Linked DNA regions of Homo sapiens: region 2 is linked to region 1. Evidence: fine-mapped expression QTL. Tissue or cell type: whole blood. Region 1 holds a variant in brackets; the other region holds the start of a gene. All regions are shown on one strand. Distances are between the middles of the regions. Region 1 overlaps PCBP1-AS1 (PCBP1 antisense RNA 1). Region 2 holds the start of PCBP1-AS1 (PCBP1 antisense RNA 1).

Region 1 (8,332 bases):
AGATGATGAATAGGAGATATCCAGGCAGTGGCAGAGCATGGGAGGAAGGGTGTTCTAGGCACAATGAAGAGCACACGCAAAGGCCTTGCAGCAAGAAAGCACATCTAAAGAGATGTCATGAGCTGGAGGATGGGAAGGTCAAGATAGGTGACTGATGCAGATGATGCTGGAGAGGCCAAAAGGGCCTAATAGGACAAAGAAAGTTGTTTTACTATTCACTTCACAAGTATTGTCAATAATGTGTCAGACATTGTCCTAGGTGCTAGGAATACAACAATGAATAAAACAAACAATATCAGCCAGGCACAGTGGCTCACACCTGTAATCCCAGCACTTTGGGAGGCCAAGGCAGGCGGAACGTTTGAGGTCAGGAGCTCAAGACCAGCCTGGCTAACATGGTGAAACCTTGTTCCTACTAAAAATACAAAACTTAAGCCAGGCATGGTGGCACACGTCTCTAATCCCAGCTACTGAGGAGGCTGAGGCACAAGAATCGCTTGAACCCAGGAGACAGACATTGCAGTAAGCCGAGATCGAACCACTGCACTCCAGCCTGGGCAACAGAGCCAGACTCCATCTCAAAACAAAACAAAACAAAACAAAAAAAAGGCCAGGTGCGGTGGGTGGCTCATGCCTGTAATCCCAGCACTTTGGGAGGTTGAGGCGGGTGGATCATGAGGTCAGGAGATCGAGATCATCCTGGCTAACACGGTGAAATCCCGTCTCTACTAAAAGTACAAAAAATTAGCGCCTGTAGTCCCAGCTACTCAGGAGGCTGAGGCAGAAGAATGGCATGAACCCAGGAGGCGGAGCTTGCAATGAGCCGAGATGGCGCTACTACACTCCAGCCTGGGTAACAGTGCAAGACACCATCTCAAAAAAAAAAAAAAAAAAAAAAAGACAATATTCCTGTTCTCTTTTAATTGGAGAAGACTATAAACAAATATGTAAATAAACCAGAAAATTATAATATATTGATAAGTGCGATCACAGAATTAAAATCAGGTGATGTTAATAAAAGCATATGGGTAGATACTTTAGAATCATTAGATAGTCAAGGGAAGACCTGTCTGAAGAGATAGCATTTAAAAGCAGGGGCAGGGTGCAGTGGCACAGAGACCAGCTGTGAGACCTCGTTTCTACAAAAAATTTTTTTAAAAATTAGCCAGGTGTGGTGGCGCATGCCTTTAGTCCCAGCTACTGGGGAGGCTGAGGCAGGAAGATCCCTTGAGCCCAGAGCGGTACAGTCAGTTATGATCACACCACTGCACTACAGCCTGGGTGACAGAACGAGGCTTTTGACTCAAAAAAAAAAAAAAAAAAAAAAAAAGAAAGAAAAAGAAAAGGAAGGAAGGAAAGAAAAGAAAAATCAGGTATCTCAATAAAATGAAGTCATTAAAAGCTCAATGGAGGCTGGGTGCAGTGGCTCACGCCTGTACTCTCAGAATTTCAGGAGGCTGAGGTGGGAAGATCACTTGAGGCCAGGAGGTCGAGACCAGCCTAACCAACATGGTGAAACCCCATCTCTACTAAAAATAACAAAAATTAGCTGGGCATGGTGGTGCACACCCATAATCCCAGCACTTTGGGAGGCTGAGGCAGGACAATCGCTTGAAACTGGGAGGCAGAGGTTGCATGAGCCGAAATCATGCTATTGCACTCAAGCCCAGGAGACAGAGACTCTGTCTCCAAAACACAAAGCAGTTCAATGGAAACATCACTAACATCATTTTTTTTTTTTGAGATGGAGTTTCGCTCTTGTTGCCCAGGCTGGAGTACAATGGCGCAATCTCAGCTCACTGCAACCTCCACCTCCCAGGTTCAAGTGATTCTCCTACCTCAGCCTCCCGAGTAGCTGGGATTACAGGTGCCTGCCACCACGCCCAGCTAATTTTTGTATTTTTAGTAGAGATGGGGTTTCACCATGTTGGCCAGGCTGGTCTCGAACTCCTGACCTCAGATGATCCACCTGCCTTGGCCTCCCTCCTAAAGTGCTGGGATTATAGGCATGAGCCACTGCGCCTGGCCTCACTGACATCTTTTTAAGCAGGAGAATTATCATTTAAGCAATCATTCTTACATTTTACTTTATTTTTTTTTTGAGACAAGGTCTCCCTCTGTCACCAAGGCTGGAGTGCAGTGGCATCATTACAGTTCGTTGCAGCTTCAACCTCCCAAGCTCAAATGATCCTCCCACTTCAGCCTCCCAAGTATCTGGGACCACAGATGTTCACCAGCACCACACTTGGCTAATTTGTTATTTTTTGTAGAGACATGGTCTCACTATGTTGCCTTGAACTCCTGGGCTCAAGCGATCCTCCCACCTCGGCCTCCCAAATTGCTGGGATTACAGGCATGAGCCACCACGCCTGGCCCATTCTTCCATTTTATGAAGATCACTCTGGCTGTAGTGTGGAGACTGGAATGGAGGTAGGGGTGAATAAAATTAAGACTGGAAGCAGTGATGATAATGGATTATATAAACTAAGATGATGATAATAACAACTAAGATTCACATAGCAATTAGTAGGTACCAATCTATTATTCTAAGCATCTTATATATATTAATTCACTTAATCCTCAGAAGTACTCTTTTATAAATTTAAAAACTAACGTACAGGGCAGTAGCAATGGAGAGGGAAAATGATTAGATTCAAGAAATACTGAGGAGGTAGGGAGGACAAGTCCTAGTGACTGGTTGTCAGACGTGGGAAGGGAAGGAAGGAATGATTAATCATTACTGGGTTTGGGGCTTTAGCCGCTGCATACTGTCTATAATGTATATGATTGGGCACTGGAGAAGGAGCAAGTGAGAAAAAGCAGGGGGCTGCAAGACATCCCAGTGGGGTTGTAAGCAATTGGATAATCTGGTCTAGAGATCTGGGCTGGAGATTTGGGAATCATCCACGTGTAGATGGTAACTGAAGCTGCCAAAGAGGTTGAGATCACCCAAAAACTGGAAATACCTTAATGTCTTCATAGAAAAATAGCCAAATAAAATACAGCATATCCATTCTATGAAATACTATCCAGCACCAAAAAGAATGAGATATGCCTGTTTGTACTAACATGGAATACTGTCAAAGCATGTTATTAAATCATAGAAGAAAATACCAGAATGATACATAAGATGTTATATCACTTGTATAGAGAATTAAATAAAACAAAAAATAATACTTTAAATTTTTTCTGGGTTCATACATGTGTAAATAAACACACAGGAAGAAGTATGGCAGGTACATTCCAAATCACCAATACATTACCTCTAGTGAATACAGAAATAACTGAAATGGGGAGACAGGAATAGCCAAAATATGATCTACAATGTTTTGGTATTTTAAAAATATCATTTATTATATTCTCTGTAAATTAAATAATTTTTCAAAAAGATTGGGCAGGAGGAGAAGCTTACAAAGGTCATCTTTTGCTTCAGATACTAAATTCTCTCTGTCCTTCCCATCCTCCACTGGCCTTGAGGTTCACGTATTCTGGCTTCTCATCTGTCTACCTCTGAAATGTTAACACCAAGCCCCCTAAGTCCACACTCTATCCCAAATCCTTGGCTCCAGGCAAGCCCTGGTCACCAATCTCTGAGCCTGGGCTATAGCCCCAGGAGGAGAGATCAGACACCAAAATCGCAACACACACAGGGGAAATGGGTATAGATGCCAGCTTCAAGGACAGTGATCAAGTGGCCTTGCTGGCCTCCTGGCCAGCAGAAATTTCAAAGAGCAAAAGGTATCTGAAAGTATCTGGCCATTTGGAGGCAGCTCTGGAGTGCTGAGGAATGGGGCTGAAGTACAGTCAGGCAAAGTCAGGGGTGAAGTGGTAAGGAGTGGGTTGAAGAAAGAGCTAGTTTCACTTGTAAAGATTCCAAATGAAGTGCTGCAATCTTATGGAAACCAGGTTTACAGAAAAAGGAGGCGGCAAGCTGCATTCTGTGAGTCTGGCTGGAGAACGGGGGTTTCTAGGGGTATCTAGAGGAGTCACTTCCAAAGCACCAATTCCAAAAGGCACATTATGTAAAGGTTTAGTAGCTAGAGCAGCAGCAGGAAGCTAGAGATGTGAATAGAAAGGAGGTAAGGAAGATCTACAAATGAGGAAAGATGAAGGCAAGTTAAAGCCTTTCCTTCAGCCAGGCACAGTGGCTCATGCCTGTAATCCCAACACTTTGGGAGGCCAAGGCGGGCGGATCACCTGACTCAGGTCGGGAGTTCGAGACCAGCCTGACCAACATGGAGAAAACGCGTCTCTACTAAAAAAAAAAAAAAAATAACAAAATTAGCCAGTCGTGGTGGCACATGCCTATAATCCCAGCTACTCAGGAGGTTGAGGCAGGAGAATCACTTGAACCCAGGAGGCGGAGGTTGCAGTGAGCAGAGATTGTGCCATTGCACTCCAGCCTGGGCAACAAGAGCAAAACTCTTGTCTCAAAAAAAAAAAAAAAAAAAAAAAGCCTTTCCTTCGTCAGTAAACCAAAGGCAGAGATCATGGGCAGCTTTCTGGTGATTGTACCCTTAAGTTTCAACTTTCTATAGATGAAAGACAATGTATTTGGTCATGTTTTCCTGGTTACCCAAAAAATGACACAGCCCAGGCCTTACCCAACAGCTGATTCACCATCAATTAATCTGTATCACAGCCTGCTGAGCCTCACACCTCACACAGTCACACAC[T/C]AGACAGCTCTGGGGGAAAAAAACAACCCAAGGTGAGCTGTCAAAGTCCTCTTCGTAACCTGACCTCGCCCTCTGGGGTAGGTTTCATTTCAAAACTGAAAGGGACTGAAGGGCTGGGGAAATCCAAAGATCAACAGAGCCAGGAACAGGTGGTTCCCACAGAAGCATCCCAGGTTGGAACTCAAAACAGAAACCAGACCACTGATAAGACATGGTTTATGATGTCTGTCTCCAAGCCTTCGGATGCCATTTATATGTTTTTGATATTTACAATAGGGCATGACCACATTTATCCAACTCCTGACTACTAAAAATCTAATTCTCCAAGTGCTCAAGCAACTTCCTGGTTTTATTACATTTTAGAGCTTCGGGGTAGCTCAATAACTGAGATACCAGGGAACTTGCGAATTCTTTAGCCCTTCAAATGGGCCACAAATAATGAATTTTATCTCTTCTTCCTTCTTCATCTCCCCACAAAGGCTTGGCAAAATTCCTGTCTCACTAAAAAGTTTCTAAGTTGTTCATAATGGCCCTCTCAATGGAGCAATATTCAATACACAAAAGTCTAGTTCATCAAAGGAGTCAGGTTATTTGCTTGAGGTTCATCTGTAACTAGCTATATGAGCTTGGACAAGTCACTTCACCTTTCTGAGTTCTATAAAGTAAGGAGGTTGGAAAAAAAAAGAAAGGGAAGCAATAAAACAACCTTGAACAGAAAAAAGACTTTAAGTTTTTAAGTCTAAAAGGCTCATCAAGTGCCAACAAGTGTTATTTTTAAAAGGCATACACCTCAGCCTGGCCAACACGGCGAAACCTCATCTCTACTAAAAATACAAAAATGAGCCAGGCGTGGTGGCACGCATCTGTAATCCCAGCTACTCGGGAGGCTGAAGCAGAAGAATCGCTTGAACCCAGGAGGCAGAAGTTGCAGTGAGCTGGGATCGTGCCATTGCACTCCAGACTGGGTAACATGAGCAAGACTCCATCTCAAAAAAAAAAAAAAAAAAAAAAAAGACATACCAGAAGCATACCACAGGAAACTCTAAGCATAAATAAAAATTCACAAACTTCCAGAACAAGAGAACAGATTATTACTTACAAGGAAAAAAAATCCCATTGGACTTCTCATCTGTATCACCAGAAACTCAAAACACTGGAAAGCTACTTAGACTTTGTCGAGACTAGGACTAGTATTCCAAGAATTCTAAACCTAACCACAATATCATTCATACACGAAGGTTAAAAAGAAATTGGACATAAAAAGACTTTGAAAGTACCACTCATGCCCCCCTTCTAAGAAAATCACTCAAAGAAATGTCCTACTTGGCTGGAAGTGGTGGCTCACGCCTGTAATCCCACCACTTTGGGAGGTCAAGGCGGGCGATCATGAGGTCAGTAGGTCGAGACCAGCCTAACAGTGCAAAATCCTGTCTCTACTAAAAAAATAAAATACAAAAATTAGCTGGGCACAGTGGCGCACGCCTGTAGGAGGCTGAGGCAGGAGAATCGCTTGAACCCGGGAGGCGGAGGCTGCAGTGAGCCGAGATTGTGCCATTGCACTCCAGCCTGGGTGACAGAGTGAGACTCCGTATCAAAAAAAAAAAAAAAAAAAAAAAAAGGAAATGTCCCAGGCAATTAACATTTAACTGTAACAAAGCCAGGAAAGACAAACTATATAAAAAACATGTTTCCCCTCCCCAACAAAAACCTTTTAATGAGTTTGGACCAGATGACTTCGAATGGCCTTTCCAAGTATAAACAGAAACTGCCCTGTACACCACAGTCCCTGGCAGTCTGGGTTTGTGAGTTGTTCATCACCTAGTGGCCTGATGAAGTAAATGCAGTTTGTCAAGTGCCCGGATAAACTTCCAGCCATTTTGTGAGCTCTGATGGCGTATGCAGCAGGGCAGCAGCCTGACCTCCTAATGATTACAAGAGTAGGAGACTGCAAACCCTCCAAACTCACAGACAATTGTAAAGACTTAGCTCACCATCAATTCATTCTTCAAGGAGGAAAGGAAAGCATACTCACCTTGTAACTAAATAATCCTAAGTGAAGCACAGATTTGTCAGACTGCATTTACAAAGTAGGGAGAAGTAGAAATTGTTTCTGTGCAGAATGATCTGAACTGAAAGCAAGTTTAGGTATTAGGATAAACTGCAAATATGTCTTACACATAGGAAGACTGTCTTCAAAGGTTCATGAGTTTGCATGTGGAAGATGTATTACATTTATTCTGTATAGTTCCGGGGTACTGGTCTAAAATTAGGCCGGGCACAGTGCCTCACGCCTGTAATCCCAGCACTTTGGGAGGCTGAGGTGGGAGGATCACCTGAGGTCAGGAGTTCCAGACCAGCTTGGCCAACATGGTGAAACCCCATCTCTACTAAAAATATAAAAATTAGCCAGGCGTAGTGGCACACACCTGTAATCCCAGCTACTCAGGAGGCCAAGGCAGAAGAATCACTTGAACCCAGGAGGTGGAGGTTGCAGTGAGCCGATATCGTGCCACTGCACTCCAGCCTGGGTGACAGAGTGGGACTCCGTCTCAAATATAAATAAATAAAAACAAAAATTAAATTAATGAGAAGTCTCAATTAGATTTCAATTCAAAACAAGAAATAATTTTCAGCAGGGCACAGTGGCTCATGCCTGTAATCCCAGCACTTTGGGAGGCCAAGGCGGGAGGACTGATTGAGGTCAGGAGTCCAAGACCAACCCAGGCAACATAGCGAGACCCAGTCTCTACAAAAATTTTTCTTTCTTTTTTTTTTTTATGAGAAAGAGTCTCGCTCTATTGCCCAGGCTGGAGTGCAGTGGCACGATCTCAGCTCACTGCTACCTCTGCCTCCTGGGTTCAAGCAATTCTCATGCCTCAGCCTCCCGAGTAGGTAGGATCACAGATGTGAACCACCATGCCCAGCTAACTTTTGTATTTTTAGTAGAGATGGGGTTTCGCCACATTGGCCAGTCTGGTCTCAAACTCCTGGCCTCAAGTGATCCACCCACCTCGGCCTCCCAAAGTGCTGGGATTACAGGTGTGAGCCACTGCACCCAGCCTCTACAGAAAATTTTTAGAATTAGCCTGGTGTGGTGGCACACAGTAGTCCCAGCTACTCAGAAGACTGAGGCAGGGGGATCACTTGAGCCCAGGAGTTCAAGGCTACAGTAAGCTATGATCACACCACTGCACTCTAGCCTGGGTGACAAAGCAAGACCCTATCTCTTAAAAATAAAAAAAGGCCAGGTGGCTGGGCGCAGTGGCTCACGCCTGTAATCCCAGCACTTTGGGAGGCCGAGGCGGGAGGATCACTTGAGGTCAGGAGTTTGAGACCAGCCTAGCCAACATGATGAAACCTGTCTCTACTAAAAATAAAAAAATTAGCCAGGCATGATGGTGAGTGCCTGTACTCCCAGCTACTGGGGAGGCTGAGGCAGGAGAATCACTTGAACTCAGGAGGCAGAGGTTGCAGTAAGCCAATATTGTGCCACTGCACTCTGTCCTGGGCGACAGAGCAAGATTTCGTCTCAAAAATAAAATGAAATAAAATAAAATAAAAACAAAAATAATAATTTTTTGCAGGGCATGGTGGCTCATGCCTGTAATCCCAGCACTTCAGGAGGTCAAGGCAGAAGGATCACTTGACCCCAGGAA
Region 2 (8,332 bases), 18 kb after region 1:
CCGTCTCTACTAAAAATACACAATCAGCCGGGTGTGGCGGCACATGCCTGTAATCCCAGCTACTCAAGAGGCTGAGGCAGGAGAATCGCTTGAACCTGGGAGGCAGTGGTTGTGGTGAGCCAGGATCGCGCCACTGCACTCCATCCTGGGCAACAAGCGCGAAACTCTGTCTCAAAAATAAATACATAAATTAATTTAACTTAAAAATCAGCCGGCATGGTGGGCACACACCTGCAGTCCCAGTTACTGAGGAGGCTGAGGTGGGAGGATTGCTTGAGCCTGGGGGATAGAGGTGGCAGTGAGCTACGATGGAGCCACTACACTCCAGCATGGGTGACAGAGCAAGACCTTCTCTCAAAAAATAAATAAAAATTAAAAATAAAAAAATTAAACAACCATAGTATGCTTGCTGAACCAGGTAGGTTACAGAAAATAAATGTGGTCCCTGCCCCCAGAGAACATAAGAGTCTTATTGAGGAATCCTTCCCACCCCTTCCAAACCCATAAATGTAAACATCAGGGAAAAGAGGGAAGAGATTTTCTAAAACAAGAGTTAGGAACTTAAGGTAAATGCATTGGCTGTTTGGGGACAGAAAAATAGTAACTGGCTAGAAAGCCTTTTGAGTTTAAGGTAAAGCTATCCCACACATCAAAGTCCATATCAAAAGCATCAGAAGCCATGGAAAGGTGTAATCCATAACTAAGAGTCAAGAGGTTCAGCTCAAATTCTAACAGGCTGTGTAACGTTGGGCAAGTCACTTCACTCCTCTAATCCAAAAATGGCTCTTCTGTAAAATGGGCATAAGACCCTACTGGCAAAGTTGTCTGTGATGATTAAACAAGTAACGTGAAAGCACTCTGAAAGGTTTTACGTGACATACCAACTTAACATAAGAGGAAGCAACAATCATTCCTCTGTATGTAGCATAAATCCTGTGGTTCAACTTCCAAAGTCTAAACCTGACTCACCTTCTTAGCCTTGTTAAACCCCTCAACCAACCTGTGGTCACTGAGAGGAGGCGAGTCATGTGTGAGGCTCCAGGCAGGGGTGGGGCAGTGACTACTCAGTCAATTGCTCCATGTCTCAGTGGTTTCATCTATAAAATGGGTGGTGTGGAATTCACTCAGGTATCCACAAGATAATGCAGGTCTGAGGAAGGGAGTGGAGATTTTACCAAAAGTGCAGAAAACATTTACATAAACCTCCCACCCCGCCAAAGAAAAATAACCAAAGTCATCAAATATCATCAGTCCCTGGACATAAGTAGAAGGACCCTTAGAGATCATTTAATCTCTTGCTTTATAAAAGGGAGAACTGAAACCCTGACAGATGAGTTGTAGAAGTCTCAGAGCTAGACAGGGGCAGAGCTAGGACTAGGGCCCAGAGCCTCAGATTCCAAGGTCCAATGACCTCTTTGCCAGACCACAGCATCACCCAAGGTGTCTGTATGACATGTTACCAACCCCAAGACACATTACAATTTAACCAACGTCCAAACGTGGGCTACCGAAGGGAGAAACTGTTAAGACTCTCGGGGAAGGAGGGAGGCTAAGAGCTGGGGAAGCTGGGAAAGGGAAGGCTTCACTGAGGAGGTGCACTAAGTCCCAGGAGTACATAACAGGAAATTATGGAAATATTTCAGTAGGTAGTCTTGGAAAGAAAGACCTGACAGATAAAATTTTCTCTAGAGAAAAGAAATAAGTTAGATTTAAAAGACCAGAAGAAGGCTTTGTTTGAACATTCCTTGATTATATGCAATTTAGTCCTTTTGTTGTCACCTGAGTTTCTAACACTTGGTAATATTTTTAATTCCCTCATCTATTCTGTCTCCCTATGAGACAGGACTCTCTGCAGAGACCACATCCAGTTTAGTGGTTAAGAATGGAGTCTCTGGACTCAGATTGCCTAAATTCAAATCCTTGCTTTACCACTTAATAGCTGTGTGACCTTGGATAAATTCCTTCACTAATCTGTACCTCTGTAAAACTGACCTAATATCACCACCCATTTCAGGAGGTTTTGTGAGGATTAAATGTGTATAAGCGGTCACAACTTATTAATGGGTTTTTAATCACTTTATAATGTGTCCTTTTTATATATAAAGAATAGAAATTACCCAAGTACATATACTGCATGTAGTAACAAATATTGTTTTGCAAAAATTTTGTTACATATGTGTGCATAAATGTCTTAAATCATAATGTAAAATTTGTTTCTTAGTGGTTTTTTTAAAAATGTGAGACACTGAATACATAAAATAAGGCTTAGAACAATGCCCAGCACACAGTAAGCACCTAGTGCTGTAACTGTCATCGTTGCTGTTATGTACCTATTAAATGTTCGTAGAGTTATATAAACTAACATGAAACCACTTTGGAAAATATATCTGATAGTAACATAAGTTAAAGGCAAAAAGCCCTTCTCTTTGTCTCTCATATCCACACACAATCAGAGCCCTGCTCAGGCACCAGTTTGTTGCTTGGCCCACTAGCTACGTGTTGCATTGAACTGAAGAGTCCACAGACTGACCTAACACTCTGTCATGCTCTGTCAATCTCTGCAGAGAAATGGAGGCTTGGTGCCAGAGCGAATTTATTTTTACCTGGTTGGGGTGCTGGGGTGGGGGAGGCAAGAGTCAAGCCCATGGGGAGCTGACGGAAGCAAGTCAGTCATACAAAAAACCATTTGCTCCCCCAGAGGCAGGTAGGCTCAAATGTGCCACAGACAGGGCCAGACCGACAGACACCTGAGCCTCTGGGCAGGCTGAATCACTTCCCCCTCCCTATCCTCACCAGACACTGCATAAGACAGCATTTCAGCCCGCCCGCCCGTTACAGGTGTAGCTCTTATCAGGAAAAGCTGGGAGCTGCCTGATACAAAAAGGGGCTGACTGCACAACAAAAGATTACCTGAAGGGCTCATTTAAATGACAAGCTCACCTAAACGTTTTAAATAGTATTTAAATTCCAAAACCCTGATTTACAGAAAAACCTGGAAAATGTGCTCACCAGTAAGGAAATCTGGAGGTCCATCCCCGACATTGTGTGACCTTGAATTAAGCACTTCATCTTTATGTTTGTCTTCCTCTGTTTAAAAGAGAGAGAGAGAGAGAGAGATAAGAACACCTACCTCAGAGGACCATGGTAAAAATTAAAGATAGAATACGGTGAACTGCCTTGCATCGGATGTGCTGGCACTGGCCAATGCACAATAAACGCCTGTCCCTTCTAGACTAAAAATGAACACTTAATTGTGGTAAACTATTAATAAGATTCACCGGCCAACTGTCCTATGAAAAAGTCAGAGGCACTGTAGTCTCTTCGTAGCTCTCGTTCTCTCCAGCACAACAGCCCATGCTAGGAAGTCTAGAAAAGCAGTAACTTATCTCATTCCTTAAATTAAACAGAGGTTTCTAAATGCTTTGGTACTGTGGGGACCCAAATTATCCCTTGATACTGCCCCCCTATTATCCACTATTAAGCTTTAAAAAGGCGAGAGATTAAATATTGTGCCCACATTTTACAGTCATTCGCGTTCCCGTTTCAAATTAAAGGGAGGAAAACGCGTTAAAATTAGGCCTCCGACCTTCAGACCAGCCTGTGGGCTTTTTTAAGTCATAAAACTCGCGGAGGTGGAAGGCCCCGGGGAGGAAGAGGGGTGCATTCTAGAGCTTTCGGGCCGACCCCAATTTCTCGTTGGCGACGAATGCTAACCACGTGTCGCCATTTTGTGTTCAGGAAACATGGCGGCCGCCCCAAGGGTAAGGAACAGGGGAGGCGGAGTAGCGCCACGTTAGCCGCTTTCCCTGAGAGATTGTGAAGCACGTTGCGCACGGGGCCCTTTCTGGTCTGGCTTAGCCCAAGGAGGAAGGGGAAAAGGCAGAAATCACAACTCATAGGCCAGCGTCTTGAGCGACACTTCCTCAGCGGGAAGAACCGGCAAAAAAGGCCTTCCAAGATGGCGGGCCCTGACGGGGCCGCCCCCCTTGAGCCTGGCGCAGTGGCTGCGCCCATGGGCCCGAAAAGCAGCCGCGGGAGCCCAGGCCGCGCGGGGAAAGCCGCAGAAACGTCCTGAAGCCCTGGCCGGCAGCCCCTGAACAAACGAGGCCTCCACAGGCGTACACTATTGTTTCTAATGTCGGAAAAGGGTGCCGCGGTGGAAACGACACAAGGGCAGGAGGTGGGGTTTCTGTGGCTTTAACCGAAAGAAACTTGCGAAACGCAAACAAAGCATTATGTAAATGGACGCCATTCTTTTTAGGACCACGTTTCTAGCACGCCCCACAAACAGCAGAGCCGCGATTCGGCAGGCGGCCGTGAGTGGGTTTCGGTCTTTCTGCCCACCGGCCGCCGCCGGGGAGCAGGAGCTGGGGTGGGGGATCCATGCAGGGCGCCCGGACGCCGGGGACGAAAGGGCCCCACGTGCCCGCCCGCGCGCACCCGCTCCGCAGGCCTCGCCTCGCCGCCCCTCCCCCCCGGAAGAGGGCTGCTGCCCCTCCCATCCCCCCACACCCTCGCGCACGCGCTCTGGTCACCTCACGCGCATGTTTTAAACCCGCGGCGTCCCGGCTTGTGCCTGCAGTTTCCGCCGGGGCTGCCCATGTCGTTCCGCGCACGAGCCCCTCATGTAGGGCAGGAAAATAATGTCTATCCCGCATACACAGCACTAGTATTTTCAGTCACCCGCCAGTGCCGTTAGAGTTAATAAAATACGTCATCATTTTAAAACTTTGCCGGACTCACAGCTTCCGCCCATCGTGCGCTTCATTTTCACTACTGCAGTGTCAGAAGGTTTTTTTTTTAAGGACCATGTAAGGGTTGGCGCAATCTTGTGACCTAAAAAAGACGGGTCCTCATTTTTTTTCAAGGGGTCCTGCGCAGCAAGCACTTCCGGGGTCAGAGGGTACGCGGGGTTGAAAGCGGGCTTCCCGCCCCGCCCAGACCGCCGAGGCTGCCGCCGGAGTCGCCACCGCCGCGCCCTCGCCCACCCGCCCGCCCGCCGCTCCCGGCCCCGCTCGCCCCCTCCGCCGCCGCCGCCCGCCCCTGCGACTACGCTGCGGCCTCCCGCCCGCTCCCGCTCGCTCCCGCGGCCCTCGCTCGCCTCGCGCCGGCAGTTTTGGGCCTACACCTCCCCTCCCCCCGCCAGCCGCCAAAGACTTGACCACGTAACGAGCCCAACTCCCCCGAACGCCGCCCGCCGCTCGCCATGGATGCCGGTGTGACTGAAAGTGGACTAAATGTGACTCTCACCATTCGGCTTCTTATGCACGGAAAGGAAGTAGGAAGCATCATTGGGAAGAAAGGGGAGTCGGTTAAGAGGATCCGCGAGGAGAGTGGCGCGCGGATCAACATCTCGGAGGGGAATTGTCCGGAGAGAATCATCACTCTGACCGGCCCCACCAATGCCATCTTTAAGGCTTTCGCTATGATCATCGACAAGCTGGAGGAAGATATCAACAGCTCCATGACCAACAGTACCGCGGCCAGCAGGCCCCCGGTCACCCTGAGGCTGGTGGTGCCGGCCACCCAGTGCGGCTCCCTGATTGGGAAAGGCGGGTGTAAGATCAAAGAGATCCGCGAGAGTACGGGGGCGCAGGTCCAGGTGGCGGGGGATATGCTGCCCAACTCCACCGAGCGGGCCATCACCATCGCTGGCGTGCCGCAGTCTGTCACCGAGTGTGTCAAGCAGATTTGCCTGGTCATGCTGGAGACGCTCTCCCAGTCTCCGCAAGGGAGAGTCATGACCATTCCGTACCAGCCCATGCCGGCCAGCTCCCCAGTCATCTGCGCGGGCGGCCAAGATCGGTGCAGCGACGCTGCGGGCTACCCCCATGCCACCCATGACCTGGAGGGACCACCTCTAGATGCCTACTCGATTCAAGGACAACACACCATTTCTCCGCTCGATCTGGCCAAGCTGAACCAGGTGGCAAGACAACAGTCTCACTTTGCCATGATGCACGGCGGGACCGGATTCGCCGGAATTGACTCCAGCTCTCCAGAGGTGAAAGGCTATTGGGCAAGTTTGGATGCATCTACTCAAACCACCCATGAACTCACCATTCCAAATAACTTAATTGGCTGCATAATCGGGCGCCAAGGCGCCAACATTAATGAGATCCGCCAGATGTCCGGGGCCCAGATCAAAATTGCCAACCCAGTGGAAGGCTCCTCTGGTAGGCAGGTTACTATCACTGGCTCTGCTGCCAGTATTAGTCTGGCCCAGTATCTAATCAATGCCAGGCTTTCCTCTGAGAAGGGCATGGGGTGCAGCTAGAACAGTGTAGGTTCCCTCAATAACCCCTTTCTGCTGTTCTCCCATGATCCAACTGTGTAATTTCTGGTCAGTGATTCCAGGTTTTAAATAATTTGTAAGTGTTCAGTTTCTACACAACTTTATCATCCGCTAAGAATTTAAAAATCACATTCTCTGTTCAGCTGTTAATGCTGGGATCCATATTTAGTTTTATAAGCTTTTCCCTGTTTTTAGTTTTGTTTTGGGTTTTTTGGCTCATGAATTTTATTTCTGTTTGTCGATAAGAAATGTAAGAGTGGAATGTTAATAAATTTCAGTTTAGTTCTGTAATGTCAAGAATTTAAGAATTAAAAAACGGATTGGTTAAAAAATGCTTCATATTTGAAAAAGCTGGGAATTGCTGTCTTAAACTCTTTGTTGGTGCCTTTTTTTTCCCTCCCCTTTTAGCCTGAGGTGTTTGGAGGGAGGAGGGAGAAGGGTGGGCCCGTCCTTGGTATTCTCTCAAGCTCTTCTCACCTTATCGGTAAGATTCCATTCCCTCTGTGCCCCAACAAAGGAACATGGCAGGCTGGGCCTGCTTTGGGATGTTTCCAGGGACAGAGAGGTTCAAGTTCCAGAGAGAGGCCTCTGCCCATTTCTCTGGTAGAAACAAGGTTTTCTCGAGGGGAAAAGGTGTGCCCACTCAGTAGGACCTCTAAATGGCAGAGCGTCCTCTCCATCTAACCAGTTCCCCCACCCCCACCTCACAGGATAAACTTAGGAACAAAAAAATATTCTGGGGTGGGAGGAGCCTGGGGAAGGGGTGTGGGGGCAGGGAAAGGAAAGGAAGGGAGGGCAGTGGGCCGGGGAGGATTGGGGGCTTGGAGGAGGGCAACAGCTGCCGGGTGGTGGTGGGACTAGAGGGGTCTTGGTTGGGCAGCAGGGGTGGGAAGGGGGGAGGGGACGGTACCAACGAGACGCACGTGTCAAGCATGCACCTGTGGCAAGCAGCCTGTCAGAGGATGTTATTACACCTGCCAAGTGGTGTATCCAGAAACAAAAGAGGCCCAGTTTCCAATTCTTCAGCTGTGTGCAATGTTTAGAGAATCCCTATACCAGGAAATAATCCTGCCTAAATGGGTCAGTCTTCACAAGGCGGGAATGTAGACTGATGCACTGACTATAACCTAAGAATGATCTGAGTGTTAAAGATGCAGATTCCTCTGTCCCACCCCAAAACTAATCAGCTGTATTTTTAACAAACACCCCAAAGGAGTCTTAGATTTGAATGCCACTGATTGTCTTCAGTGGAGGAGGAAGATCCCGCTGTGAAGGCCGTAGCACCCTCACGCCCACGTCAGCCAATAGGACTATCCCTGACCTGATGAGAGAAGGAAAACTGCTAGGCAAAGGCAACATTAGAAACAATAGTATGAGAAAATAGAGCCTGAGATGAGGGAAAGAAGAAACAATAGTATCAGACAATAGACCAGTAGGTGCCAAAGTGGGTAGTTCAAACCCCAGGCACTATGGGAGATCACTCATGGCAAAGAGAAGTTCCTGTGGGAGGGGAGTATTATCCACAGTAAATATTCGTTGAGGCTTATTATGTGGTCACGCAGGGTTAGGCAAGCAGTCACTGAAAGGAGCCCAAATTCTGGAGTTAGACTTGCTTTCAAATTTGAGTTCTGCCTCCTATTCATGGCTTTGGACAAATTAATCTCTATAAATGAAGATGTTAAAATTAACACCTTCTGGGCTTGTGAAAATAAAATGAAAGCATGTATATAAAACAGAACAGTGCTTAGAACACAGTAAATTTCAGTGTACTCGATTATAAAAAGCCAAAAGGCCCATTTCTGGGGGCTGAGGGTTGGCCACAAAATCTGGGCAGAGAAGACAGATGATTAAAAGGTAGGAAACAAAGCAATGTGTATTAAATGAGTTGGACTGAGAGGCCAAGACAGGTGGGGAGGGAGGGGGACCTAGTGAAGACCCAGAAGTGGGTACCATGCCTTCTGGGAACAATAAGCACAAATCCAAATCAAGGCAAGAGGGGATATAAGCTTGAACCCTCAAACACCAAGCCAAATAGTC

What was found. PIP is the estimated chance that this variant, and not a neighbour inherited with it, causes the effect.
Region 2: it holds the start of PCBP1-AS1, and the variant in region 1 is fine-mapped to the expression of PCBP1-AS1 in whole blood (TOPMed, PIP above 0.99).

The regions. Positions count from the first base shown.
Region 1 is chr2:70,064,515-70,072,846 of GRCh38, forward strand. The region is part of intron 4 of PCBP1-AS1 (PCBP1 antisense RNA 1); the gene reads right to left. It also overlaps a transcript of ASPRV1 not described here. Among named protein-coding and RNA genes, the nearest start is that of PCBP1-AS1, 18 kb to the right of the region's middle. RefSeq lists enhancers at 4,817-4,896, 6,343-6,637, 6,575-6,644. The variant T/C (reference allele first, on the strand shown) is at 4,677.
Region 2 is chr2:70,082,538-70,090,869 of GRCh38, forward strand. PCBP1-AS1 (PCBP1 antisense RNA 1) reads right to left here and starts at 4,478. Exons shown (of 11, transcript NR_033872.1): 1 at 4,441-4,478; 2 at 3,010-3,087; 3 at 1,001-1,150. PCBP1 (poly(rC) binding protein 1) reads left to right here and starts at 4,940. Exons shown (of 1, transcript NM_006196.4): 1 at 4,940-6,666. The coding sequence starts at 5,207. The coding sequence ends at 6,277. It also overlaps a transcript of ASPRV1 not described here. RefSeq lists enhancers at 3,537-3,676, 3,817-3,906, 3,947-4,156, 5,362-6,006, 6,078-6,244 and silencers at 4,367-4,516, 4,967-5,026, 7,053-7,102, 7,193-7,282.